4 separate regions of the Homo sapiens genome follow, and all the other regions are reported to be linked to region 2. The links are microRNA targets in miRTarBase. Many come from high-throughput screens and were not tested one by one. Region 2 holds a microRNA gene; each other region holds the end of a gene's coding sequence. Distances are between the middles of the regions.

The links. Region 2 holds the annotated microRNA hsa-miR-6799-5p (GGGGAGGUGUGCAGGGCUGG, at 3,345-3,364, shown strand). A microRNA usually pairs through its seed, bases 2 to 8, with sites in the 3' UTR of a target mRNA and lowers its output. Matches are read on the target gene's strand: a 7mer-m8 pairs with bases 2 to 8, a 7mer-A1 pairs with bases 2 to 7 and ends in A, and an 8mer does both.
Region 1: miRTarBase lists POLR3D as a target of hsa-miR-6799-5p. Seed matches in the 3' UTR shown: 7mer-A1 at 1,153-1,159, 7mer-A1 at 1,895-1,901, 7mer-m8 at 3,817-3,823, 7mer-A1 at 4,416-4,422 and 7mer-A1 at 4,570-4,576.
Region 3: miRTarBase lists KLHL36 as a target of hsa-miR-6799-5p. Seed matches in the 3' UTR shown: 8mer at 6,013-6,020.
Region 4: the mRNA of OR7D2 is a reported target of hsa-miR-6799-5p. Seed matches in the 3' UTR shown: 7mer-A1 at 2,360-2,366, 8mer at 2,902-2,909 and 7mer-A1 at 3,070-3,076.

Annotation. Positions count from the first base shown.
Region 1 is chr8:22,249,516-22,256,653 of GRCh38, forward strand. It overlaps POLR3D (RNA polymerase III subunit D), which reads left to right. Exons shown (of 9, transcript NM_001722.3): 8 at 560-712; 9 at 881-5,086. The coding sequence ends at 1,003. It overlaps PIWIL2-DT (PIWIL2 divergent transcript), which reads right to left. Exons shown (of 2, transcript NR_134293.1): 2 at 5,061-5,391. Among named protein-coding and RNA genes, the nearest start is that of POLR3D, 8.0 kb to the left of the region's middle.
Region 2 is chr19:49,788,527-49,795,684 of GRCh38, forward strand. MIR6799 (microRNA 6799) reads left to right here and starts at 3,340; the gene lies at 3,340-3,408. It overlaps AP2A1 (adaptor related protein complex 2 subunit alpha 1), which reads left to right. Exons shown (of 23, transcript NM_130787.3): 5 at 3,409-3,538; 6 at 4,465-4,566; 7 at 7,104-7,158.
Region 3 is chr16:84,661,189-84,668,188 of GRCh38, reverse strand. It overlaps KLHL36 (kelch like family member 36), which reads right to left. Exons shown (of 5, transcript NM_024731.4): 5 at 503-6,611. The coding sequence ends at 6,056. Among named protein-coding and RNA genes, the nearest start is that of KLHL36, 16 kb to the right of the region's middle. RefSeq lists a silencer at 4,225-4,274 and an enhancer at 4,365-4,584.
Region 4 is chr19:9,185,277-9,192,434 of GRCh38, forward strand. OR7D2 (olfactory receptor family 7 subfamily D member 2) reads left to right here. Exons shown (of 3, transcript NM_175883.4): 3 at 493-3,542. The coding sequence starts at 506. The coding sequence ends at 1,444. It also overlaps the pseudogene OR7E16P. Among named protein-coding and RNA genes, the nearest start is that of OR7D2, 9.9 kb to the left of the region's middle. RefSeq lists an enhancer at 4,169-4,691.

The sequences.
Region 1 (7,138 bases), not on the chromosome of region 2:
GAAATATTTCAAACACAAATGAGAGAACATATGGCCAGATGCGGTGGCTCATGCCTCTAATCCCAGCGCTTTGGGAGGCTGAGACAGGAGGATCACTTGAGCCCAGGAGTTCGAGACTAGCCTGGGCAACGTGGTGACACCATGGCTAATACAAAAATTAGCCAGGCATGGTGGCGTGTGCCTGTAGTCCCCGCTACTTGGGAGGCTGAGGCGGGGGAATGGCTTGAGTCCAGGAGGCAGAGGTTGCAGTAAGCCTAGATCATGCCACTATACCCCAACCTTGGCGACAGAGTCAGACCTTGTCTCAAAAAAATAAGAGAACGTAAACCGCCATGTACCAGAACTCAGCTTCAGCAGTAACTGATATTTTGTCCGTGTATGTATTTGTTTGCTGTGGGTTTTGTATTTTAACCATAGCAGACAGCCCTAGGAGAAGGCACTCTTTGGGGAGCTCATTTTGACCTTTGCTGTGCCTTTCTCTTGGGGAGTAGAAGGGGGTTCATGAAAGATGGAGGAAAGAGCTCCTAGCCCAGTGTCCATCCTCTGGTTTTCTCCGCAGGAAGCCAAATTGGCAGAGAATGCTTGTACCCTGGCTGACCTGACAGAGGGTCAGGTTGGCAAGCTACTCATCCGCAAGTCTGGAAGGGTGCAACTCCTCTTGGGCAAGGTGACTCTGGACGTGACCATGGGAACTGCCTGCTCCTTCCTGCAGGTAAGAGCCTCCTTAGGGGCAAGGAGGGACCCTTTCAGGAGTGAAGGAGGATTGAAGAGCCACTGCTAAATAAGGGAGGGGGTTTCTGGGAGTATCATGTCCCCATTCACAGCTCTACACGCCGGGCACGTGGTGGTGGTTCTCATCACTGTCTCTGTTAATTGGCAGGAGCTGGTGTCCGTGGGCCTTGGAGACAGTAGGACAGGGGAGATGACAGTCCTGGGACACGTGAAGCACAAACTTGTATGTTCCCCTGATTTTGAATCCCTCTTGGATCACAAACACCGGTAAAATGAGCAGGTGGAGGAGGACGGCGCCTGTGCCCACGGCTGCTGCCTGCTCCAGACATTTTGTTCTTGAATCTGTGAGACCCAGAAGGGGCCCACTGAGCCCACTCACTCCAGCCTTTGGCAACCATTGTTCCAGGTCCCCCAGGGCTTCCTCCCACAGCAGCTGTGAATGGCACAGTGACCTTCCTGCAGCGTGGAGATGGCACATCCTTGCTGCTGGGGACTTGGCCCTGCTATTTATTTTTGTATTTATGTCTTAATCTCTTCCACTGATGCATCCTCCAAGGGTAGATGGGGAGGGTCTGTGTGAAGGGGCCGGCTTCTCTTGGTGCCTGCTGGGTTGCAGGGGCAGGAAGCGTGTGGACTGCAGCTTCTGCTGGTGCTCCCCCCGTCCTCCTGGAGGCAGTATAGGAGAGAGAGCAAGGATTGAGTCTGAGACTTAAGCACTCGGTCCCAGCTTGCCAGTTCCTGGTTCTGTGTCCTTGGACAAACTACCTAACCTTTCTGAGCCTCCTATACCTCATCCGACACAAATGGGGATGATACCTACCTCCAGGGTTGGCGTGAGGATTCATGGGCTATTATAGATGAAAACTGCACAAGGCCAGAACCAGCAGGCACTCAATAAACGTTCATGTCCTTTTTCTCTACCTGAGTCTATTTTCAAACAAAATAGAGATTCTAAATCTCCCAGAAGCAGCGACTAGAGCTGCTCCCGTCCCCACTCTTGCCCCTTCCTGCTTTATATCCCGTCCTCACCCTGGGCCTGATGCCCTAAATTTATGGTGTCAGATTGTTCTATGCCTTTTTCTCCTGGCTCCTGTTAGCCAGGTGCCTCCTGTGTGAGTTACTGTAATAGCTGCAGGTAATAGAAAGGAAGAAGTCAGAGACCCCTCCCAGCACCCTACAAAAGCCTTTGGGGGACATGTTGGGCCCAGGACATGTTCCCTGCACTCTTTCCTTTGCAGTTAGTACTCATGTATGAGCCGAAGTCATATATTGCTAACAAAAAAACTAAATCCTTCATAAGAGAAGTTAGGGATGTATTGAATAATGGCCTCTTTGACACTTGGCCGATGATGCCCACTTCAAAAACTTTGGGTTTCAGAGGCCTGCCCGTCTCCTGTCCTAGCACTGCCAGAGCCACCTACTCAGTGTTACTTTTTTGGGTCTGTGATCCTGTTCCCTTTACCAGGTCATTGTACTGTGTTGTCCCTGGAGGAACAGCTTCTCCTCTTGTCTTGACAGTAGGGCTGGGGTTTTCCCTGGTTCAGCTGGGGAGACGTTTGCAGGTTAGAAAAAGGTCTCATGCGGCAGCGTGTGTGGCTGTTAGACGCTGATGGCACAACTTCCCTTTGCTGGCGTCGTGGCACCTGGCCTCTGGGACAGTATGAACCATAGGGGCTCAGGAAGAACCGCTTCCCCTCCACCCCCATCCCTGATTCCTAGTGGCCCCTTAGATTTTGGGTACATCTTCCTTCAGGCTCACCTTCCTTCTTTTCAAAGTTCCTCAAGCCTGTTACTCATTTGTCAAGGCTGGGCTTCTCCTACAAAGCCCTCAACCTGCCCAGCCAGCAGCTGTGAGGCTGACTGAATATTTGGTGACCATATCACCCTTTCTGGTGCTGAAGCTCATGTCAGCTCCATTGGACAGTGTTATTCTGGGCTCTTCTCACTGTAGAGGACTGGAGCAGAAAGGGTTCCTTGGAAACCTGTGCTGGGAAGCCCTGTTTGGTCTAAGGCTAAGCTTTGGTTAACTCTGGGCTCCAGCCCTTTCTTCCTTTAAATAGCTGATGCACGGCCAGCAGGTCTCCATTCTCATCCTCTCTTTCTATTCTGTTTCTTTGGTTCAGAAATACTCTTCTGCTTTTTTTGGACGAACTCAATGGCCCGATGTTAGATATTGGGTATTTTTCAATCTTCTGTTTTCTGACCCTTCCAAGAAAGTTTGAGGAAGAACATGTACTGCTTTCACGTTCATTTCGCCCATTCAGATGTCTTGGCTTGAACCTTATGACTCCGTATCAAAGTCCTCACAACCTGTCTCAGATCCCTGATGCACAAATTAGGTCTTATTAATAAGTGTGGGAAAAGAGAGGAGAGTCCACCTTCTTGGTCAGGCCCCTGAGGCATGCATTTCTACCAAGGAATATGGACAGATGACAGAGGAGAAGAGCCCAAAGCCAAATTTATACATGAGTGCAAGTGGATGCAAATTTGTTGCTCCCTGCATCTGTGTATATGCTTTCTGTTAAATACAGAAAGAAGGAACAATAGGCTTGCACACTTTTCTAACTACATGTTTAAGTGGCAGAGTCCAGGCTGTCGAGTCACGGTTGGGTTTGAATCTGACTCCACCAGTAACTTTGGTTGGAAAAAATCACTTATCCTCTTTAAGCTTGATTTTATTTATTTTATTTTATGTAAGAGTGAGACAGTAGTAGCTTAATAGGGTTGCTTTTAAATTAGAGTGAACATGAGGCATTTATTCGGTGCCAGACAGATAACTGCCTATAACAGGATGTGATCAGCACAAGTAACAGAAAATTAGCCTGACGGTGGCTTAAGCAATGGGAATGTTTATCTCACATAGCAAAAAGTCTGTAAATAGATGGTTCTAGAGTTGGGTGGAAGCCAAAATGTCATCAGGATTTCCTTGGAACCGTCTGCTTTGCCATCCTCAGTATTGCAGAATGGCTGCTCCTGCGCCAAGCATCATTCTGCAAATGATGGTGTCCACAGCCAGAGTGGACAGTAGTACAGGAGCCTTCTCATTCTGCCCTTATCCGGGAATAACCGTCAGCAGCTCCAGCAACCTCCCCCCTGTCTCTTTATAGAGTGGGGCCACGTGCCCACTCTTGGACCAGGCCCTGGCAAAGGGGGATGGGTCGACTAGTGTATCCCCTGGCACTGAGCACACTTGCCCTTGAGCTGGGGTTTTGTTAGTAGGGAGGAAGCTGGAGTGGCAGTTGGATAGACAATTCATAGTAGCTGCTGCCATGTTCAAAAAATGCTGCAATGTAAAATCATAAAGTATTCATCTAGGCATAACTTTTTAAAATATTCAGTCACCTTTTATTCTACTAAAATCAATTTTAACATTTTAGTGTATATTATTTTATTTTAGATTCAGCAGGTACATGAGCATGTTAGTTTTGTTTTGTTTTGTTTTGTTCTGTTTTGTTTTTTGAGATGGAGTCTCACTCTGTCGCCCAGTGGTGTGATCTTGGCTTACTGCAACTCTGTCTCCCAGGTTCAAGTGATCCTCCCGCCTCAGCCCCCCAGATAGCTGGGATTACAGGCACATGCCACCACACCTGGCTAATTTTTGTATTTTTAGTAGAGACGGGAGTTTCACCATGTTGGCCAGGCTGGTCTCAAACTCCTCACCTCAAGTGATCTACCTGCCTCAGCCTCCCAAGTGCTGGGATTACAGGCGTGAGCCACTGCGCCCAGCCACATGTGCGTGTTTGTGTATATTGCGTACTGGTGGGGATTGGGCTTCTGTCATACCTATCACCCAAATAGTGAACATTGTACTCAGGTAGCATTTCAACCCTTGCCCCCCCTCCCACTCACCCCCTTTTGGAGTGCCCAGTGTTTGCTATTTCCATCTTTATGTCCATAGGTACCCATTATTTAGCTCCCACTTATAAGTGAGAACATGTGCTATTTGATTTTCTGTTTCCGAGGTTAGGATAATTACCTCAAGCTCCATCCATGTGGCTGCAAAGCACATGATTTCATTGTATTTTATGACTGCTCATGTATATTATTTCAGCCTCCAAAATTTTGTATGTTATTTATAATGATATAAATTATGTGGTTTTATCGTGTACTCTATCTCACTCAGAAATACATACAATTCTTCGTTCCCAGCTACTCTGGAGCTGAGGTGGGAGGATCACTTGAGCCCAGGAGTTCAAGACCAGCCTGGGCAACATGGTGAAACCTTGTCTCTGAAAAATAAATAATACACACCCACATGCACACACATCCAGTTCTTCCATGTTAATGAGTATGTTGTGTTTCACATACTTCTGAATTAGCCGAAGGAATTAAAGGTAGCATCTTTTAATCCTCAGACTGCCCTGCGTGGTCCGATTGAATTGGGCAGTCAGCACTAGGCTCTTCAAAGGGAAACAGGCTTCTTTCTTAGGACGGTGCACAGTGAAAGAGTGGCACACACGCTGTTCATCCAGTGCTCCAACCCCCAGTCCTGGTGTCAGATACTTCTACATTTGGGGCATTTCCCCTTGAGATGGCTGTGGCTAGCGACACATGATGTGAACACCTCTCTTGGATTGTGGTTCGGCCGCACAAGGCCCCATCAGAGTTCTACAGGTGGAGTGTGGGGCCCAGAAGGGGCTCAGGTCTTAGGGGTGTCATCTGAAAAAACAGAGATGGTGATGGGACACCAGTTCTAGGAGCCCTCTGCATGGCCACTTTCTGCCTCAGCTCTTCTAAAGCATTTCTTCTGTTCCCTTCCATTGGGGTAACCACTGATCTGTCTTCCCAAAAACTGAGTCAGAAGTTGGACTTTGTTACTTGGCTCATCTACATTTAAGATATAGTCAGAAAAAAAATGCAGTCTTTACATCTTAAGAAAGCTTACATGGGCCAGGCGCAGTGGCTCACACCTGTAATCCCAGCACTTTGGGAGGCCAAGGTGGGCGGATCACCTGAGGTCAGGAGTTCGAGACCAGCCTCAACATGGAGAAACCCCGTCTCTAGTAAAAATACAAAATTAGCTGGGCGTGGTGGTGCATGCCTGTAATCCCAGCTACTTGGGAGGCTGAGGCAGGAGAATTGCTTGAACCTGGGAGGCGGAGGTTGCGGTGAGCCAAGATCACGCCATTGCACTCCAGCCTGGGCAACAAGAGTGAAACTCCATCTCAGAAAAAAAAAAAAAAAAATAGAAAGCTTACATGAAAGAAAAAGAAAAATGCAGTCTTGATCACTGTTGGCCTGGAGACTTTATCTTGTGTGTTTTCCAGGGCGTGCATGAGGTTTCACTGGACAAGTAGAAACCATTCTAGGTATTCAGAAAGAGTTAATACAAGAAGAGAAGTTTATAGACTCGTTGGAAGGCTGGAGGAGTGAGCCATAGGTTAAGCATCCAGGAATCAGCACCCCCTAGAACAGATGGTGAGGGAGCTACACCCTCTGCCACAATCAGGAGGGTGGAGACTCAAGCTCGACTGAGTTCCGGAACACAACACACTGCCACAGCTGCCAGCCAGGGGTGAGGGAATCCCACAGCCCCAGCTGCCTCTGGGGAACCATACAGCTGTAGCTGGACCCTGGCACACCTGAAGAAAGTGCCTGCTGTGTGCTAGGCACCCTGCAGGAGTTAGGAAAGCAGTGGTTAGGGGCTGTGTCCTGCTGGAGGAGCCTGCACTCTAGTGAGGGAGACAGGATAAGCTTAAGGAAGGACGTTAAAAGGTGACAAGAGTTTGGGAACTTGCAGGGAGCAGGGGATTCTGGGTGGTGGCGGGCATGTTGCAGCAAGTAGGGTAGGTCTCCTTGAGAGGGTATCGTTTGAGGAAGTGAACCAGCGGGATCAGATGCAGGTGGGGAGAGTGCTCTGGGCTGAGTGAAGAGTAAGACAGAGACTGGCTGGAGCTGAGGGAGTGAGAGGGGTGGGACCTGGCCCTGGAGGGCTTTTAGGCCATGGTAGGGACCTTGGCTTTATTCTTTTTTTTTTTTTTTTTTTTTTTTTTAGACGGAGTCTCGCTATGTTGCCCAGGCTGGAGTGCAGTGGCGTGATCTTGGCTCACTGCAACCCCCACCTCCCAGGTTCAAGTGATTCTCGTGCCTCAGCCTCCTGAGTAGCTGGGATTACAGGCACCCGCTACCAAGCCCAGCTAATTTTTGTATTTTTAGTAGAGACAGGGTTTCACCAGGTTGGCCAGGCTGGTCTCAAATGCCTAACCTCAGGTGATCCACCCGCCTCGGCCTCCCAAAGTGTTCGAATTACAGGCGTGAGCCACCACACCCAGCCCGGCTTTATTCTTAAAGTGACCTGGTGAGCCAGCTGGTGTGGAGATGAGGCGGGAAGCAGGGCTGATGGAGTCCCTGGACAGTGGATGGCAGTGGCTTGGCCAGGCCGCTAACAGCAGGGGCACTGGGAAGT
Region 2 (7,158 bases):
AGCGATGGGAAAGTGGCCCAGAGTCAGGGCTCGGGAGATGCGCTGTGGCTCAGGAGATGTGCGCCGTGGCAGCGATGGGAAAGTGGCCCAGAGTCAGGGCTCGGGAGATGCACTGTGGCTCGGGAGATGAGCGCCATGACAGAGATGGGAAGGTGGCCCAGAGTCAGGGCTCGGGAGATGCGCGCCGTGACGGAGATGGGAAAGTGGCCTGGAGTCAGGGCTCGGGAGATGTGCGCTGTGACGGAGGTGGGAAAGTGCCGTCACAAATGGAGCATCGTCTGTGGCCAGGCTTCTTGCTGGTTTCTGGTTCTAACTTGATGACCACTGGGCAGTGAACGTTTCTGTAGGGTGAGCGTCTGGGGGCAGCACTGCTGGTCTTGGTCTGCTGCACACACAGCAGTGGCCTTTCTAGACAGAGGAAGCCCAGAGCCTCTCCAGAGGGCCTGTCCCTGTGTCCGCCTCCAGCTGCAGCACACGAGGGTTCCCAGCACTTTAGGAGGCCGTAGCAACAGGCGTCAGTCGGGCGAGTATCTGCCTGGATGACGGCAGGAGCCACCTGCTGGGTGGCTGCACATCCAGTGAGACATGCTGCCACAGGCCTTTGACTCGTGCAGGTCTCCCCTCTGAGGACTTCTCCCCTGTGTCTTTTGCTGTCTGTTGGGTGCTTTCTGGGAAACCCTTTACTGATAGGCCATGGCTGGGCCAGTCTTGACAGCTCCCAGCACCTCCTCTTACTCAAGGCTATGGCCATGCACCACACAATCTCATTTCTGTTTTTTTTTGAGACGGAGTCTCACTCTGTCTCCCAGGTTGAAGTGCAATGGTGAGATCTCAGCTCACTGCAACCTCTGCCTCCCAGGTTCAAGCGATTCTCCTGCCCCAGCCTCCCGAGTAGCTAGGATTTCAGGCACGTGCCACCATGCCCAGCTAATTTTTGTATTTTTAGTAGAGATGGGGTTTCACCATGTTGGCCAGGCTGGTCTCAAACTCCTGACCTCAGGTGATCCACCTGCCTCAGCATCCCAAAGTGCTGGGATTATAGGTGTGAGCCACTGCGCCTGGCCTTTTTTTTTTTTTTTTTTTGTAGAGACAGGGTTTTACCACGTTGGCCTGGCCAGGCCGGTCTCAAACACCTGGCCTCAAGTGATCCGCCTGCCTCAGCCTCCCAAAGTGTTGGGATTACAGGTGTAAGCCACCATGCCTGGCCCACCATCTTATTTCTTTCTCCCCAAAGCCGACAAGGCTCCTCATTTTCCTGAAGGGGAAACAGCCCATCAGAGAGGGTCAGTGGCTTACCCCCATCTGTGCCCCACAGTCACAACCTCATGCAGGCGTGTCTGACCCCAGAAGGTGCTCCCCTGGGATCCTCTTCTAGAACAACATCATGCTCCATGCTCTTTGCTGTGCTAGGAGCTGGGTTATGGTTGGGGCCTGGAGTCAGCCCTCTGAGATGGGCTGCCCGCTGGCTGCCAGGTTCTGTGCCAGGCAAGTGCTGACCCTGGTTTCCTGTGACTGCTGTGATGAATTACCACCAGCACAGCGGTGTCAAACACCGGTTCTGGATGTCGGAAGTCCAACATCCATCTCACGGGGCTAAAATCAAGGCGTGGGCAGGGCTCGTCCCTTCCGGGGGCCCTAGAGGAGAGGCCGCGTCCTTGCCTTCTCCAGCTCCTAGAGGCCACCTGCTTTCCTTGGCTCGTGGCCCCTTCCCCCATCCCCAAAGGCAGCAGTGTGGCATCTTCTCTCCTGCCTGACCTCTGTTCCATCCTCACATCATCTCTGACTCTGAACTGTATCTTTCCCTTATAAGGACCCTGTGATGACATTGGGTCCACCTGGATCACCCAGGATCCTCTCTCCATCTCATGATCCTTAACTTTATCATATCTGCAAAGTACCCCCACCCTTTTTTTTGTTTGGAGACAGGGTCTTGCTCTGCCACCCAGGCTGCAGCCTTCACCTCCCAGGCTAAAGCGATCCTCCCACCTCAGCCTGCCAAGTAGGTGGGTCTACAGGCATGCGCCACCACGCTTGGCTAATTCTCATATTTCTAGTAGAGATGGGGGTCTCACCATGTTGCCCAGGCTGGTCTCCAACTCTTGGGCTCAAGTGATTCTCCCACCTCAGCCTCCTAAAGTGCTGGGATTACAGGCGTGAGCCACCCTAACCCCCAGAACCTGTGAATATATTCCCTTGGATTCAAAAGAGCCTTGCAAAGTCTGTTCCCTCACAACAGGCAGAGGGACCCTTTAAAAACCTAAGCCAGATCAAAAATACACCCATTTTCTCAGTTTGTTGTGGAGAGAAGATAAACGTGTGAATCCACCCAGAGACCTGTGGGAGTGCTGGACAGGCCGAAGGGGTCCGGGGGCAGCTGTTCCTGCTGTCGTGTTAACATCACGCTGATTCTCTGCTCACCACCCACAGCGGCTTTCATCTCCCAATCGGTAAAAAGCCAAGTCCTCACTTCAGCCAACAAGGCCCTGCAGGGTCTGGCTCTCTGTTCCCTCCCTGTCCTATCTGCAGCCCTCCTGCCCCATGGCTCAGGCCGCAGCCTGCAGGCCTCCTTGCTGCTCCTCCTACACACGGGCTCCGCCTTCCTGATGGCCTTGGCACAGGCTGTTCCCTCTGCCTGGGATGTTCTGTTGCAGAGGATTTTCAGTCTTTCCTCCTTAAGTTACTCTGTTTTGTTTATTTTTAAATTTTTTTATTTATTTAGAGACAGCTCTAACTCTGTTGCCCAAGCTAGAGGGAGTGCAGTGGCACAGTCATGGTGCACTGCCGCCTCGACCTCCCAGTCTCGAGCAATCCTCCCACCTCACCCTCCCGAGTAGCTGGGATTACAAGCCTGCGCCACCACACCCAGCTAATTTTTGTATTTTTGAAGAGACTGGGTCTCACTGTCGCCCAGGCTGGTCTTGAATTCATGGCCTCAAGTGATCCTCCCACCTCGACCTCCCAAAGTGCTGGGATTATAGGCGTGAGCCACCATGCCCAGCCCTGACAGTATTTGATGTATGTGTTTTCGTGGTGCTGTCTGAAATGTAAGCCCTGTGAGGACAAGTGTTTGGACCACTTTATTCACCACTCTATCCATGGAGTGAACAGCAGTGCCTGGTACCCCATGGGCACCCAGTAGGTGCTTGGTGAATGAATGAAGGTGCAGAGCCAGGCTTGACATGTTCCTGAGCCCTGTGAGGTTACTGAGATGCAATCATTTTGCAGATGAAGACACTGAGTCCTGGTGGGCCGTGAGGTCAGCGCCAGACTGGATCCTGCGGCCGCCTGGCTGTCTGTCCCTCTCGCTGGCCTCGCACACCCTTCCTGGGAGGAACAGGAGAGGAGGGGAGGTGTGCAGGGCTGGGGTCACTGACTCTGCTTCCCCTGCCCTGCATGGTGTCCCCACAGGGACAGCATGGACAGTGTCAAGCAGAGTGCGGCCCTGTGCCTCCTTCGACTGTACAAGGCCTCGCCTGACCTGGTGCCCATGGGCGAGTGGACGGCGCGTGTGGTACACCTGCTCAATGACCAGCACATGGTGAGCCCCCAGCCCTCACACCCCCGGATACCCAGGGCTCCCACCTCAGCCCTGACCCCCCTGGATGCCCGGGGCTCCCACCTCAGCCCTCACACCCCCGGATACCCAGGGCTCCCACCTCAGCCCACGCACCCCCTGGATGCCCGGGGCTCCCACCTCAGCCCTCACGCCCCCGGATACCCAGGGCTCCCACCTCAGCCCTCACGCCCCCTGGATGCCCAGGGCTCCCACCTCAGCCCTCACGCCCCCGGATACCCAGGGCTCCCACCTCAGCCCTCACGCCCCCGGATACCCAGGGCTCCCACCTCAGCCCTCACGCCCCCTGGATGCCTGGGGCTCCCACCTCAGCCCTGATCCCCCTGGATTCCTGGAGCTTCCCCCTCGGCGCTGACGTTCACCAGACACCAGAAACCATGATCCAGTGTCCCCGGTACTCATTACCTGCCCAAGTGTCCAGAAACCCTCCCATCCCCATCTCTGACACTCCCCTGGCTGGCCAGGGATCCTGTCCAGTGACCCCCACACCCCTCACCAACCACCCAGTCCCTTAGAAAATCCCACTCTGTTTCTAATACCTGGAGATTCCCCCAACAGCGCCCATCACCTGCGCACCAGCGCAGAAACCTTGACTGTCCCACCCCCACAGTCCCAACCCTCTAGAGTCTCGCCCCTTCACTGCTCCTTACCCAGCTGCCTGGGGTCCTGCCAGGGACACCCCACACACCCAGGTCAGTGCTGGCCATGGCGCCCGAGGCCCCGTGGCCTCCTCACCCCACCCCTAAAGCACGCACAGTGACACATGTGCACACCCCTAAACCCCATCTTCCCGACTGCACACACATCCCGACCCTGTCCCGCTCCTGAGCCTCTGCTCTCAGGTACCACCTCCCCCAGGGGCCTGACTTGTCTCTCCTCTGCCCCTGCAGGGTGTGGTCACGGCCGCCGTCAGCCTCATCACCTGTCTCTGCAAGAAGAACCCAGATGACTTCAAGACGTGCGTCTCTCTGGCTGTGTCGCGCCTGAGCCGGGTGGGTGTGGCCTAGATATTGGCTGCTGGAGGTGGCCCTGGCATCCCTATGCCCTCTGACACCCCTCAGGCCCCCACTCTCCCTGAGAGGCAGCCCAGCCCAAGGTTTACAAACTCAGGCTCTGAGCTGGATTCATCCTGGCTCGGCCTCTTCCTGGCTGGGTGGCCCTGGACAAGTGGCTTCACCTCCCTGGCCTCAGCTGCCCCCTGTGTTCAGTGGGGATAATACCGGTGCCCACCTGGAGGCACAGAGCGCTGTGGATAGAGTGCTCAGAACAGGGCCTCGCGGGCCGAGCACCCCGGGAGCCAGCCGCCCTCATGACCTCCTCCCTCTCCCACTTCTCTCTCTGTCTCCCACTTTCCCTCTTCTGGCTTTGCCTCCCGCCTCTCTCTTTCCTGTGCAGCCTCTCACTCCTGCCTGGCGTCCCTCTCCCACCTTTGCTCCTGTCCTGCCCAGGAACATCCCCTGAGGCCTTGTGCATGCCAGGCTCCATGTCGGGTGACACCAGGGACACAGATGAGTCAGAACCAAGCTCTGCTCTTAAGGAGCTCCCTGTCCTTCTGGCAGGGAGGTGACTCAGTCACAGATTGTCAGAAAAGGGGTGACTCGTGCTATAATGGAGGTAGGATAGGTCACCCATAGGAGGCACTTAACACAGCCTGTGAGTCCACGAAGGCTTCCTGGGGGCGGCGATCCCAGAATTGAGACTTAGAATACACATGCGCATCTCCTGGGCAGTCAGGAAGAGGCCTGGATTCGCAGGCAAAGAGAAGAACACACCAGCTCGTGCATCCACTCATTGTTTCTTTTTTTTTTTTTTTTTTTTTTTTTTTGAGACGGAGTCTCGTTCTGTCCCCAGGCTGGAGTGCAGTGGCGCGATCTCGGCTCACTGCAAGCTCCCAGGTTCACGCCATTCTCCAGCCTTAGCCTCCCGAGTAGCTGGGACTACAGGCGCCTGCCACTATGCCCGGCTAATTTTTTGTATTTTTAGTAGAGACAGGGTTTCACCGTGTTAGCCAGGATGATCTCGATCTCCTGACCTCGTGATCCACCCGCCTCGGCCTCCTAAAGTGCTGGGATTACCGGCGTGAGCCACTGCGCCTGGCCCACTCATTGTTTCTTTCTCAGGTTTTTTTTTTTTTTGAGACAGGGTCTTGCTGTCGCCCAGGCTGGAGTGCAGTAGTGCAGCCATGGTTCACTGCAGCCTCTGGCTCCTAGGCTCAAGCGATCTCTCGCCTCAGCCTCCCGAGTAGCTGGGACTGCAGGTGCCTGGCTAATTTTTGTATTTTTTGTAGAGATCGGTCTTGCTTTGTCGCCCACACTGGTCTCAAACTCCTGGCTTCAAGTGATCCTCCCGCCTCAGCCTCCGAAAGTGCTGGGATTACAGGTGTGAGCCACTGCACTCAGCCTCAGTCATTGTTTCATTCATTCATCACACATCTGAGTACTGCAGTGTGCCAGGATGACAGTGAGGTAGGAACACAGACCAGCACGGAGGTGGGACAGAGCTTCCTGGAGAAGGGCTTTTCAAGGTTGAATAGGAGTTTGCAATGAGGAAAAAAAGTCACATGATCTTTCTTTTTTTTTGAGATGGAGTTTCGCTCTTATTGCCCAGGCTGGAGTGCAATGGCGTGATCTTGGCTCACTGCAACCTCTGCCTCCCGGGTTCAAGCAATTCTCCTGCCTCAGCCTCCCAAGTAGCATGGATCACAGGCATGTGCCACCACGCCCAGCTAATTTTTGTATTTTTAGTAGAGATGGGGTTTCACCATGTTGGTCAGGCTTGTCTTGAACTCCTGATCTCAGGTGATCCACCCACCTTGGCCTCCCAAAGTGCTGGGATTACAGGCGTGAGCCACTGCACCTGGCCATGATCTTTCAATCTTTCACTAATTCCCTGCCTCTTCCCCGAACCTCTTCCTATCTGACCTTGTATTAGGCCTAGGGACCCAAAAAAGGGTCAGACCCAATCCCTGCCCCTGAGTGGCTTCAAGCCTTGTAGGGGGACTACAGGAAACAGCCTCCAGGAGCCGGTGCGCTGTGTGCTCTGACGGAGGAAGCCTGGGGCATGGGAGGCTCAGAGCCGAGTGAGGAGGGGGCCCTGGGAAACTGTCACACAGAAGGGAACCAGCAGAGACCTTTCCTGCCCACCACACACCAGCATTACTTGGAAAGATCAACCAGCCGGGCTTAGTCCTAGTTTTGCCCCCATTCAGTGTGCCTGACGCTTCCTCGCTCCCTTCCCAGAGCCTCAGATTCCTGCTTCATAAAACCATTGCATTGGTCGGGCATGGTGGCTCATGCCTGTAACCCCAGGACATTGCGGGACTGAGGTGGGAGAATTGCTTGAGGCCATGAGTTCGAGACCAGCCTGGGCAACATAGTGAGACCCTGTCTCTACAAAAAAAACCCACTAACAAAACCATTAACACTGACAGCACTGCCCTTGGAAGGCACCATTTGCTCCACCCTGGCATGTGGACCCACGTGCCCCTCCCACCCCAGCCCCCAACTTATTTCTTGCTCTTCCCCGCCAGATCGTCTCCTCTGCCTCCACCGACCTCCAGGACTACACCTACTACTTCGTCCCAG
Region 3 (7,000 bases), not on the chromosome of region 2:
CAGGTGAGGAAGTCGGCACCGGGCAGCGGGTCCCGTTTGGGGCTCACTGGCTCAGAGGCAAATTCTAACCACCTTATCAGGTATGATGGCTGCGCAGACACCCCTCCCCAACCCTCCCGATGCTGACCTGCCGAAGGGACAAGGAAAGGGTGCACAACCGTGCCTGGGCTTCTCTGCTGGTGGCCTTGCAAAACCCCAGCAAGGCAGGGGAGCGCCCGAAGGAAAACAGAGCTGGTTCTTAGAGTATTGTGATTGCATTTTTTCTGATAAAGATAGCACACTGCTTGTCATAAGCTGTTTCCCTTGGTTTCTGTGTTTCTTTTCTAATCAAATTACCCCAGTTGACACACATTTAAGCAAATAGTTTCATTTCAGGTCACGGGGACTTAGCCCTGCAATCAAGGAACTGAATGAAATTCCTGGCAAAATACAGTAATTAGAAACACAATGAAAGCAGAATTGAAATGTCCCAGCCTCCCCACAACACCAAAAGGAAGTCTGGTTAATTTCCAAATTATATTTAGGATCAACAGGCAAGGGGTTCTTTTTCATACGGGCAGAGAAATTAGGACCAGACATCATTACAATAACCACACAAGACTAGGAATGTAATTATAAAATAAACCATACCCTAGCAAGCAAATTATTTTAATGTGTTTCAAGAATTGAATACTCTGTATGGAATTAAAAACAAAGAGAAAAAAGCAACGTGCAGAAAATTAATTAAAAAGAGTTAAGACACAGAAACTTCGAAATGTCATAAAATTACAAATACAAAAGCAACAAATTAAAAAACATACACGATTGCAGATTTCAGTAACATCAGTAGCCAGAACATACCCAATGAATCACTTAATCATCAAATATCTCGCTGATTTTGAAAGGGGGCTAGTGGTTGATGATTTAACCTCAATCAATCCAAAGGACATGACTCTTTCCTTACATTACAAGCAATCTGTAAAGATGGCTTTAAGTACCTTTGAAAAGGTGGAGTGTCCTTTCTCAAAGGAAACAGACAAGGAAGGGGTTATCCGCTCTGCCCCCCCACTACCGAAATGTGTACATTCATTCAACTCTGGTAACTAAGGCAACCAAAGGACAATTTCTTTTCTTTTTTTTTTTTTTTTTTGAGACAGTCTTACTCGGTCACCCAGGCTGGAGTGCAGTGGCGCAACCTCGGCTCACTGCAACCTCTGCCTCCTGGGTTCAAGCGATTCTCCTGCCTCAGCCTCCGGAAGAGCTGAGATTACAGGCGACCACGACTGCCTAATTTTTGTATTTTAGTAGAGACGGGGTTTCACCATGTTGGTCAGGGTGGTCTCAAACTCTTGACCTCAGGTGATCCGTCCCCCTTGGCCTCCCAGAGTGCTGGGAGTACAGGCGTGAGCCACTGCGCCCGGCCCCAAAGGACAATTTCTTGAGACCCCCACACACCTTCAGAACCACACATTCTGTTCATGTTAAAAACAAGAAATTAACAACCTCTAAAGCTAAGGACAATGATTCTGTAAAGTGCAAGAATGGTTCATTGTTTCCGCTTTTGTGGATTTCATGTTAAGAATACTTTAAAAGAAAGGGTGGGCGGGAGTAAACCAGGACCCCAGTCATATATTTGATCAAGAAATGACCCGTATGGCAAAGGTGAGACGTGGACCAGCCCTCAGGTGTCTCCAACTCTGTGCACACCACTGAGGTAGGAGCTCTAGAAGAAACGCAGACCCTCTCAGGGGGGTTAAGGTTTCCTCTTGGCAAATGAGCTGGGGGCCTGAGACAGTCATACCCACGGGCTGCATGCAACTTTGCATGCAACTTCACGAAATTCTAGAGCTGTATCACATCAGCGATGGAGAAGGGCAAGATCCAAGACAAAGCCACATGAGGCGAGGTCCTGGTGCTGCCATTTGTTGTCCAGCACAAATCAAGGGGCCGGAGGAAAGGGATGAGGTGGAAAACCCCGGCAGGCATTCTACAAAACAGTTATTAGCAAATTGTATCAAAAAGTATCAAAACATTTCAAAAAACTCTAAAAACTGCCAGGCTTGGCAGATGCGCAGGACAGGGTCTCCAAGTGCCCGTGGCGCTGCCCTATACTCCAGGCATTTATCCTAGAGGCCAGGATGCCACCCCCTCCCCTCCCCTCCTGGGCACTCAGAATCCACGGAGACACCAGGAGGTCTAAACCTCATCTGCAGCTGCCCCTCCAGGTTTGGGACCAGTGGACGGGGTTCCAACCACGGGCTCTGACAGCCACAAGGCCCATGAGATGCTGCTGCACCATGGAGGACCAGGGTGAAGGATGAAGGTCAGTGACTCTACAGGGGGTGGTGGGGGGTGTGGCAGGGGTCCCCTCACTTCCCACATTGCTGCAAGTCACTGAACGATCACTTGGCTTAGGGGCCGAGGTACACTGAACCACAGGTGAACACAACTGAGCTCACAAAGTAGGCCCCTGGACCTCAGAGGATGGACCCCACTTCCCCTCAGCATCTGGATGCCCACCTCAAAGGTGAACACCCCTTAGGGTGAGTTTCTGGGTCTCCATGAAGTCACCTTATCATGAGTGAGGGCACTCAATATAAATACACACGTGTGGTCCTGCTCAGAGCCAGGTCTGAAGTCCCACTTGATAGCCTCAATAAAATGGCAGAACAATAAAAATACCAATTGCGTGCTAACCACAGTTGATAAAATAATCTCTGTGCATTTAAAACAGCAGGAAGTTTGCTATAAGTAACAAGGGTTCATCAGCTTTCTACTCCCTCCCTTCTATTATTATAATACATCTATGTCTTAAGCAAACAGCTTTCCAACTTGGGTGAGGACCAAACCCCAAACTTACAACTAATATGAAGTTACAACTCTAATTCTTTAGAAATGAGAGAAGTCCAAACCTCAATAGAAGCCTGCCATGCTTATTTTGAAATGTTAAAAAAAAAAAAAGATCCAGGTGTCTTCAAAATTCAAGCAGAATAGCTTGAAACACTGAAAGTTTAACATGATGACATGTGTGGCTGTTTCCCTCTCAAAATGGCAGCCTGCAAGCACCTGTGCCTTCATCACTCTAGTTTAAAACCCCACATTCGTGACTGTGCGGTTCAAATGGCCACTGCATAAGCACAGCCCAAACTCTGCCCATCTGAGTTAAAAAACATTTTATTCTTTTGAGACAGGGTCTCACTCCGTCACCCAGGTTAGAGTGCAGTGGTGTGGTCATAGCTCACTGCAGCCTCAACCTCCCAGGCTCAGGTGATTCTCCCACCTCAGCCTCCTAAGCAGCTGGGACTACTGCATGCCCCACCATCCCTGGCTAATCTTTTGTAATTTTTTTGTAGAGATGGGGTTTTGCCATGTTGCCCAGGCATGGTCTCTTCCATTTTCAGTTCCATTTTCATGCACAGTAGGGTGAATTTTCAACTTAAAAAGACAAGTAACAAAAACCTGGCCCGGGCACCACCACTGGGTGCCCTTGTGCCCATCCACTGACCCCAACAAGCTCAAAAACCTTTCTTGTCACAGTGTAGCCACCATCAAATATTAGAAGTTGACCCACAAGATGAAACTTGTTTATCCTCCCTTTAAAAGGGTGGTCCCAACCTTAGTAATATTAGGGTCAAAGCCATGTCAATTACAAACCACCTTCATAGTATCAGGAGAGACACCACAAAATATGAAGCGCAGGACGTCGTATGTAACTCATGAGGCACAAGAAAATCAGAATAGAGGCCAGAAGCTCACACATTTCCAGGGACAAGTCCCAGAAGCAAAACATAAAAGAGCTGGCTTAGGCTGAAAACCAATGGCTCTCCTCTCTCCAAGGTCAAAGCTATCCCACTCCCCAAATCACTCACAGAGTCTTTCTATGTGCTCTCCCCAACTTGCCCCGAGATTCAGGCCAAACAACTGCCCGTTTGTTCATGACCCAGGCTGAGATGGGGAGAACAGCCCACGTACACCCTACCCTGCCTTCTGAGGGGTCTACAAGCAATAAAACCTTTCCCGAATAGGAAGGGGGTAAGCTATCCCAAAGTTGGCAGAAGTTCTGCAAAACATGTTTTGTGGGGGTCTGGGACTAGGTATGAGACAAACGACTTTTAGGCTCAAAGAAGTTTGGAAATGCTGGGTTGAGACTTCTCGGAACCTTTCATACACCGGAATGCTGCAGAGCTCCAAGCAGAGTTTCCAGCCTTTTGGTCTGTTTGTTTGTATGCCTCGCAGAACCTCTCAACAGTTTGTAAGCCTCCAGGGACTTCACATGCAAATAACTAGCTAGCTGAACATGCAGACTGCCCTCCTCACTAACCACAGAGGGCAGTAAGTTGGCTATTGAAGCTTTCAGTCCCCAAAATGCTCTCATCTCTTCTGGATGGCTACATAAACAGACCAGTGAGAACCACAGTAAACCCTGAAGGGAAGGGAAAGGAGGGGCAGCAAAGAAGCAGAAGAAATGGAAATTAAAGTTAACTAAGATTTTTTTCCTAGTCTAATATCAATCTTAACACATTGATCCTCATCCACTCGAGCAGCTGAGAGCCCTCTTAAAGGGCAAGTGACATCGAGACCTGCTCTCGGAACTGTCTGCAGGAAGACTGGTGTTAGACTAGGATTGAAGATGAAGCACATCTTGAAGTTTACTGATCTCTGCCATCGGATGCTGGGTGAGGTACAGCTCATTCATGCCTTCCTTGGCTCATGCTTAAAACCCATCACACTCCTATCCTCCCATAGTTCTGCACGTTTCTCATCCACTCGGGCAGCTAAGAGCCCTCTTAAAGGGCAAGCGACCCTGACACCTGCTTTAGGAACTGTTTGCAGGAGTCAGTGCAGGCCAGCTCCACATCCTGAAGGGGATGCCATCCGGGTACGAACAGCTCAGAGGCTGAATGGCCCTATCACCCGGGAGGAGCCTGGAGGGTATTCCATCTAATCCTGTGGCTAAGCGGGGTGGATGAGGGAACACACGGACTTGTTCGAGAATTTGCCCAGCAGCACGAAACTACTTAGAAGCAGAAAACTGGGGCAGGACCTGGCGTGGGAGTTAGGGAGCCCTCCACTGCCTTCTCAGGGATCCACATGTGCTCCTCTGTGCAGGAACTTTCAACAGCGCCTCAAGATAGAGTCACAGAGAACGATGGCAAATTCCATAGCACTCACTTTTTCTTTCCTGAGAAATAAACAGATTTGGGAGCTCAGTACATCAGTAATATAAAAGACAGTGGGTTCAGAAAAAAAAAAAAGGAAAAAAATGCACAAATTACAAAAAAATATGTATAAAGAGCTTCATACCTTTTTTCGTTTTTGGTTACCTGTAACGTTTTAGAATTCAAGAAGGTTTCCAATGAGGAAAGACGGAATTATTCAGAAACAGCGTTCACCTGATACGGAGAACAGCTCCCCAGCGGGAAGTCATCATGTCTCATCTGACAGTCTAGCGAGCTGCGTGGCCCCTGGTCACTCACTCACTCACCCTCATGGGTGGTCTCTGTGCACTCATTTATAAAACAAACACACTGGACCTTGCCAGTGATTCCCAGATGTGACTAATACCCAGAATTCCAAGAACTAGTTAAAATACAGCTTCTGGGCACCACCTCCTCCCCGTTCCTGGTGGTTTTGGATTCCATAATTCTGAGCGGGGCTCACGCATCTGTATTCTTAAAAGTTCAGCCAGGTTTGGGGAGGCTTGGACTAGGTGGCCTAAGAGAACCCTTTGAGGCCCAAGCTTCACTACAGAAATTTCTGTGTTACCCACGTGCCAGCTACTCTCAGGGGGACAGTCAGCAAGGACCCATGAGGAATCATAACACGGGGCAAAGACCTGTGAAGATACAAGGGGTTGCTCACTGCCTGGGCCCAGGGTTAGTTATTCAAGCAAGATATGTAAAGTTACAGATAGTATTTAATTGGTTACTGTGATATCATAGAAATACCAAGAATCATAAAAGTAAAAAAAGCTGCTAAGTTGTACATAATGTTTCCGGAATACTAAGAAGTTGCTGCTGGTCTACAGAGCCCTGGGAGGTGACGGTGAGGATGGTCCCAAGAGGCGCAGCTAGGGTCACTGGCCCCGGTCCTGGTGCCTCTTGCCTTTGCCTTTCTTCTTCTTGTCCTCTGGCCGTGGCTCCAGGGCGCAGACACAGGCGGACCCGCCAGCGATGGCCTTGGGCAGGTCGACGCCCCTGCTCCACTTGTCGGCCTCGCGGTCGTACACCTGCACGGTCTTGGAGAAGGCAGTGTTCTCCCAGCTGTAGCCGCCCAGGATGTAGATGCGGCCCTCCCACACTGCCACGCCCGACTCGCTGTTGGCGTGCAGCAGCGGCGCCACGCGGGTCCACTGGTTGCACTGCGGGCTGTAGGCCTCCACGCCCAGCACGTCGAAGCGCTCCATGGACTCGATGTTGTCATCGCTGCCCCCGATGGAGTAGATGCTGTCACCCAGGCTGCACATGCTGTGCCAGCCGCGCGCCGTGGTCATGGGCCGCCGCTCCTCCCACACGTCTGTCCGGTGGTCGTAGCATAGCAGGTTCTTGCGGTAGGGGCCAATTTGGTAGTCGTGGCCCCCCGAGATGTACACGAAGTCTTTGTAGATGGTGCCCGCGTGGCCGTACGTGAACCTGCAGGGTCGACGGGCAGAGACAGAGGGAGAGCTCAGGGCTGTGCCAGGCTTACCCCCTCCGAGCCGGGGAACAGCCTGCCGTCTTAGAGGGCCATGAGGATTTAAGAATATAGGGAGTGGGCACCCCATGAACACTCTATAGACAGTAGCCGTCATTAGCAAAGAAATGGCAGGGCAGGGCGGGGAAGTGGACAGCTTTGCAGTCAGGCCGCCTGGGCCAGAACCCAGCTTCACTCTCTCTGAGTCTCCCTTGCCCCATCTGGGAAATGGGAATAATCACAGGACCATCACCCTTTTCACAATGGCTGGAAACGACTAGAACAATGAGCTAGCAGGCACACATGCACCCGATGAATCACACATCAAAGAGGAAATACGACATACAGT
Region 4 (7,158 bases), 41 Mb from region 2:
TAACATATATAGTATACGTTGAATATACAGAATATAATTAATTTTTAAATAATTAAATATATGGGTGGTTGAGATGAGAGACTTCATTTTTTAGAATTCCATTTACGTATGAAAGATTAGACAAAATGAGTCCATAAATCACAAGTAAATAGTATGGACAACATTTCTATTACATGAAGGATGCCCGTTGGATGTTAACTGATGTTTCTCTTACCGCTTCCTTTTAAATAAATAAATAAATATAATTTTAAATAAATATGTATATTTTAAAATAAATACATATATACATAGTTTTATTTTTATTTTATTTTTTATTTTTATTTTTTGAGACAGTTCTCCCTCTATTGCCCAGGCTGGAGTGCAGTGGTGTAAACATAGCTCCCTGCAGTTGCAAATTCCTGGGCTCAAGTGATCCTTCCATCTCAGCCTCCCGAGTAGCTGGGACTACAGGTGTCCACCACCATGCCTGGCTAATGACCTCTTCTTTTGTAGATACATCAGCTACATGGAAGCAGGAAACCAAACAGGATTTTTAGAGTTTATCCTTCTCGGACTCTCTGAGGATCCAGAACTACAGCCGTTCATATTTGGGCTGTTCCTGTCCATGTACCTGGTGACGGTGCTGGGAAACCTGCTCATCATCCTGGCCATCAGCTCTGACTCCCACCTCCACACCCCCATGTACTTCTTCCTCTCCAACCTGTCCTGGGTTGACATCTGTTTCAGCACTTGCATCGTCCCCAAGATGCTGGTGAACATCCAGACCGAGAACAAAGCCATCTCCTACATGGACTGCCTCACACAGGTCTATTTCTCCATGTTTTTTCCTATTCTGGACACGCTACTCCTGACCGTGATGGCCTATGACCGGTTTGTGGCTGTCTGCCACCCTCTGCACTATATGATCATCATGAACCCCCACCTCTGTGGCCTCCTGGTTTTTGTCACCTGGCTCATTGGTGTCATGACATCCCTCCTCCATATTTCTCTGATGATGCATCTAATCTTCTGTAAAGATTTTGAAATTCCACATTTTTTCTGCGAACTGACGTACATCCTCCAGCTGGCCTGCTCTGATACCTTCCTGAACAGCACGTTGATATACTTTATGACGGGTGTGCTGGGCGTTTTTCCCCTCCTTGGGATCATTTTCTCTTATTCACGAATTGCTTCATCCATAAGGAAGATGTCCTCATCTGGGGGAAAACAAAAAGCACTTTCCACCTGTGGGTCTCACCTCTCCGTCGTTTCTTTATTTTATGGGACAGGCATTGGGGTCCACTTCACTTCTGCGGTGACTCACTCTTCCCAGAAAATCTCCGTGGCCTCGGTGATGTACACTGTGGTCACCCCCATGTTGAACCCCTTCATCTACAGCCTGAGGAACAAGGATGTGAAGGGAGCCCTGGGGAGTCTCCTCAGCAGGGCAGCCTCTTGTTTGTGATGGATCCCTTGGCCCCAGGACTAAGAAGTTTTGTGAGCACCAATGGCAAAAATGTTTTATTTTGAAATTCTTACTCTTTAAAATTAAAAACATTTTTTTATACTTTGAGAGTACAAATGCAGATTTCTTAACATGCATTTGCATAAGGGTGAAGTCTGAGCTTTTGGCGTACCAATTACCTGAATAGTGAACATAAGGCACTTTTTTTTCTTTTTTGAGACGGAGTCTCACTCTGTCTCCCAGGCTGGAGTGCAGTGGAGTGATCTCGGCTCACTGCAACCTCCGCCTCCCGGGTTCAAGTGATTCTTCTGTCTCAGCCTCCTGAGTAGCTGAGATTACAGGTGTGTGCCACCCATGCCTTTTAGTAGAGACGGGGTTTCACCATCTTGGCCAGGCTGGTCTCGAACTCCTGACCTTGTGATCCACCTGCCTTGGCCTCTCAAAGTGCTGGGATTACAGGTGTGAGCCACCACGCCCGGCCAAGGCAGTTTTTAAACTCTCACTCCCCTCTCACCTTTTGCAGTCTCCAGTGTCCATTATTCTGTTATAATGCCCATGCGTATACATTGTTTAGCTCCCAATTATAAGTGAGATCATGCAGCATTTGACTTTGTTTCTTTACTACCTTACTTAAGAGAATGGCTTCCAGTCCCATCGATGTTGCTGCAAAAGACATGATTTCATCCTTTTTTATGGCTGAGTAGTACTCCATTGTATATATCCTCGATATCTATATAGATATAGACATATGTAGATACATACCATGTTTTCTTTTTTTAAAAAAATTTATTTTTATGTCAGTAGTTTTTGGGGTACATGTGGTTTTTCATTACACGGATGAGTTCTTTAGTGGTGACTTCTGAGTTTTTAGTGTACCCGTCACCCAAGTGGTAGTAGTCTCTTATTCCTCACCCCCCTCCCAACCTTTCTCCCTTCAAGTCACCAAAGTTCATTATATTGTTCATATCCCTTTGTGTCCTCATAGCTTAGCTCCCACTTATAACTGAGAACATACGATATGTTCATATGGATCTTATGTATGTTGGTTGAACATACAAACAAGTCCAGGTTTTTCATTCCTGAGTTACTTCACCTAGAGTAATGACCTCCAGTTCCATCCAAGTTGCTACAAAAGACATTATTTGGTTCCTTTTTATGGATAAGTAGTATTCCATGCTGTACATATACCACAATCTTTATCACTCATTGGTTGATGGGCACTTAGGTTGGTTCCATGCCTTTGTAATTGCTAATTATGTTGCTATAAACATGCAGGTGTATGTGTCTTTTTCACATAATGACTTTGTTTCCTTTGGGTAGATACCCAGTAGTGGAACTGCTGGACTGAAAGGTAGTTCTACTTTTAGTTCTTTTTTTTGTTTTTTTTTTAAGACAGAGTCTCACTCTGTTGCCCAGGCTGGAGTGCAGTGGCGCGATCTCATCTCACTGCAACCTCCACCTCCCAGGTTCAAGCGATTCTCCTGCCTCAACCTCCTGAGTAGCTGGGACTACAGGCACCTGCCACCCCACCCAGCTAATTCTTCTATTTTTAGTAGAGACAGGGTTTCACCATGTTGGCCAGGCTGGTCTTGAACTCCTGACCTCAGGTGATACGCCCACCTCGGCCTCCCAAAGTGCTGGGATTACAGGTGTGAGCCACTGTGCCTGGCCTTCTAGTTCTTTAAGATACCACTTTAAAAAAAGTCCAGTCCTCCATTGATGGACACGTAGGTTGATTCCATATCTTTGCTAATGTGAATAGTGCCGTGATAAACATGGGGGTGTAAGTTAACAATTAATCTCCAAGTAATTTCCTTGATGGCACTTCTGTCCTATGTGCTATTCAAAAATTGTGTCCTTGATCATCGTTCTTAATTCTCCATTAGTGAGTTCTGAACTTGGGTTTGAAGCATTTGCTATAGCTTTGTTATCTCAAGTGGTGGCACAGAGTTCTTAAGCTATTGATTGTTCACTGACTTTATTTCTATGTGTTTGCATGTGGGTTTTTGTTGTTTGTGTGTTCGATCATGAACAGATCAACAGTGTTTATTTGTTTTCCTACTGGATGAAGTATGATTAAAATACGTATTTAAATATAGCTGGTTATATCTCTCTGGTGTCTCTTCTTCTTCTAAGAATATCAGTCCTATTAGATCAGGGCCTGACCCTTATGATTTCAGTAAACTTTAATTACCTCCCTGAGGACCCTGTATCTAAAGACAGTCATCATATTGGGGGTGAGGACTTCACTATATTAATTTTGGGGGGTGCAATTTAGTCCATAAGAGATGTTTATGCAGATCTGAGAAAGTTTCTGCCAACTCTATGGGGAGCTCTAAAGCTAGGGCTGCTCTTTGGAGAATTCTCACATTGTGTAGAAATAACCAGGCCCTATTACCCCAGGAAGCGTGGGGCCTTGAGGGTGATAGGGACAGAGGGTGGAGAAATTCTAGGCAGAAAAGGGCAGTTCCCAGGCAAAACCCCACCCTCAAGCCAAAAAGCCTGAAACTGCAGCCCAAAGTGAGAACTTATATCCCTGTTTTCTCGCTTGGATATCACCTTTTCCTAAACCACCCCTGACCCTGCCCAACCCCATGCTATGCCTATAAAAACCCCAGACTCAGCCAGTAGATGAAACTATGGCTGGACATTAGAGAGAAGCAGCTTTGACCTCAGAAGGACAGCTCGATGGTATAACTTCAGAGAAGAATTTGGCAGGAGACGACTGGACTTCATTACCTGCCTGCCCCATCCCTTTTCCAGCTTCCCTTACCTGAGAGCCACTTTGATCAGACATAAGATCCCTCCTGCATTTAACATCCTTCAATTCGTTCATGCAACCTTATTTTTCCTAGATGCTGGAAAAGTGCTCAGGAGCCACAAGTGCGGTTACAAAAGCCTGTCATACTGGCCCTTTGCCCTCGCTGGTGGAGGGCAGCCACTTCATGCAAAAAGGCAAAGGGCCCACTGAGCTGTTAACACTTAACACCCCACCCTAATCTTTTATTATGCAGATGGATTCTCTATCTGGCCGGCGCCATGTTGCCTGTGTCTTTACTGCACATGGGCTGACAAAGAAAAGGAAAGATGGAGACTCTATGCTGAACGTGTCTGGCTTTCAAGTAGCCCTTTCCTATTGGCGCAGCTGCTAGGATTCACCCATGCAAGCTTGCAGTTGCTTATCTATGTCTGCAGCTTGATTTTTCAGGCTTCTCTTTGTCAGAAAAGAAATGATTTGGGGGTTGCTTTTTGTTAGGGAAATTCCTCCAAGGACTCTTTTACCCTCACTCTCTGCCTAAATAATTTCTTTCTATCTCCTTTATCAATATGGCTGAGTCTGGGGCTGTTATGGGCTCAGAATGGGGGAGGGACAGACCATAGGTATTATTCAAAAAGGCAACATTCGATTGGCTAAAAGGCATTTTTCAAAAAAAAAAAAATCTGTTGGGAAAGGGCAAGTAAACAAGAACAGAAGTTTTCACTCTGGGTCGCAGGTTTCATCCAGGACGAGTAGTCCAGTCTTTCAGCCTATAGACTGTTTTTGGCTTGAAGGTGGGGTTTTACCGGGGACCCACCCCATCTGCCTGGGTATTTGGCTGTCTCCTGTCACTATCACAGAGATAACAAGAACACAACAAAGTAAAGAACCACGACATTCAAATGGATAATTTTTGAGGAAGCCATGTCAGTGCATGACATGAAAATGATTTAAATGATGCTTTAGAAATCTCAAGAACAGCTGAAAGTAAACTGATCAAAGACAGAGATTTGATGACCATGTACAGAGAAGAAAACTATAAAAGTAATTAATCACTGAAGGAGTTGTTGAATAGAAATATACAAAAACATATAAAGCAATTTTATAGGTGCTTTAGGAATGGGAAACAGAGGCATGTCTTTTAGAGAGAGAAAAAAAGAGCCAGAATATTTAAATTCACATTTGCCTTAGGTAGTTGTAATATCCAGGAAACAGGAGGATGTTCCATCTAACATCACTGGGATTACAGGCGTGAGCCACCGCATCTAAGAAATATTACTAATCATATCACAGAGTGTACACACAATGTGTACACTTACTGTGTTGTTAGCAGTAATAGCGAAGAGATATTATGAGTCATGTCACAGGGTGTACATCCACTGTGATATTAACATTAATATTGAAGAGATATTATGAATCATATAACAGGGTGTACAACCAGTGTTATATTAGCAGTAATATCGAAGAGATGTTATGAATCATATCACACGGTGTACACCCACTGTGATATTAGCAGTAAAATCGAAGAGATATTTTGAATCATATCACATGGTGTATACCCATTGTGATATTAGCAGTATTATCAAAGAGATATTATGAATCATATCCTAGGTGTACACCCACTGTGATATTAGCAGTAATTTCTAAGAGATATTATTAATTATATCACAGGGTGTACACCCATTCTGATATTTGCAGTAATATCAAAGAGATATTATTTGCAGTAATATCAAAGAGATATTATTTGCAGTAATATTGAAGAGATATTATGAATAATATCCCAGCATGTACACACAGGGTGTGTACAGATTAAGAACTGCAGCCCATCCTCTTTGGGCTGTTCCTGTCCATGTGCCTGGTCATGGTGCTGGGGAACCTTCTCATCATCCTGGCCGTCAGCTCTGACTCCCACCTCCACACCCCCACGTACTTTTTCCTCTCCAACCTGTCCTTGGCTGACATCGGTTTCCCCTCCACCACTGTCCCCAAGATGATTGTGGACATCCAGTCTCACAGCAGAGTCATCTCCTATGCGGGCTGCCTGACTCAGATATCTCTTTTTGCTGTTTTTGGATGCATGGAAGACATGCTTCTGAGTGTGATGGCTTATGACCGGTTTGTGGCCATCTGTCACCCTCTGGATTATCCAGTCATCATGAACCCATGTTTCTGTGGCTTCCTGGTTTTGTTGTCTTTTTTTTCTCAGTCTTTTAGACTTCCAGCTGCACAATTGGATTGCCTTACAAATTACCTGCTTCAAGGATGTGGAAATTCCCAGTTTCTTCTGTGACCCTTCTCAACTCCCCCACCTTGCCTGTTGTGACACCTTCACCAACAACATAGTCATGTATTTCCTTGCTGCCATACTTGGTTTTCTTCCCATCTCGGGGATCTTTTCTCTTACTATAAAATTGTTTCCTCCATTCTGAAGGTTTCATCATCAGGTGGGAAGTATAAAGCCTTCTCCACCTGTGGCTCTCACCTGTCAGTTGTTTGCTTATTTTATGGAACAGCCCTTGGAGGGTACCTCAGTTCAGACATGTCCTCTTATCCCAGAAAGGGTGCAGTGGCTTCAGTGATGTACACAGTGGTCGCCCCCATGCTGAACCCGTTCATCTACAGCCTGAGAAAAAGGGACATTAAAAGTGCCCTGCAGCAGCTGCATGGCAGAATAGTCTAATCTCATGATCTTATTATCGGTTCCATTCTTTAGCATGGGTTGGAAAAGGCAGCAAGGTCAAATATCTAGACCTGCAAAGAATATCGCTTCCTTCGTTATGTCTCTAGTTGGAATTGCTGAGTATTCTGATATCCTTTGTTCTTAATAAACATCATGATTGAATTCAATATACCTAGACGGACTCTTTTAGTTTCTGGGCAATGACCCTGGTATCCAGGTGAAATTACATTCTACTTCTTTCTTCTTTCTTCTCTTCTTCTCCTTCTCCTTCTCCTT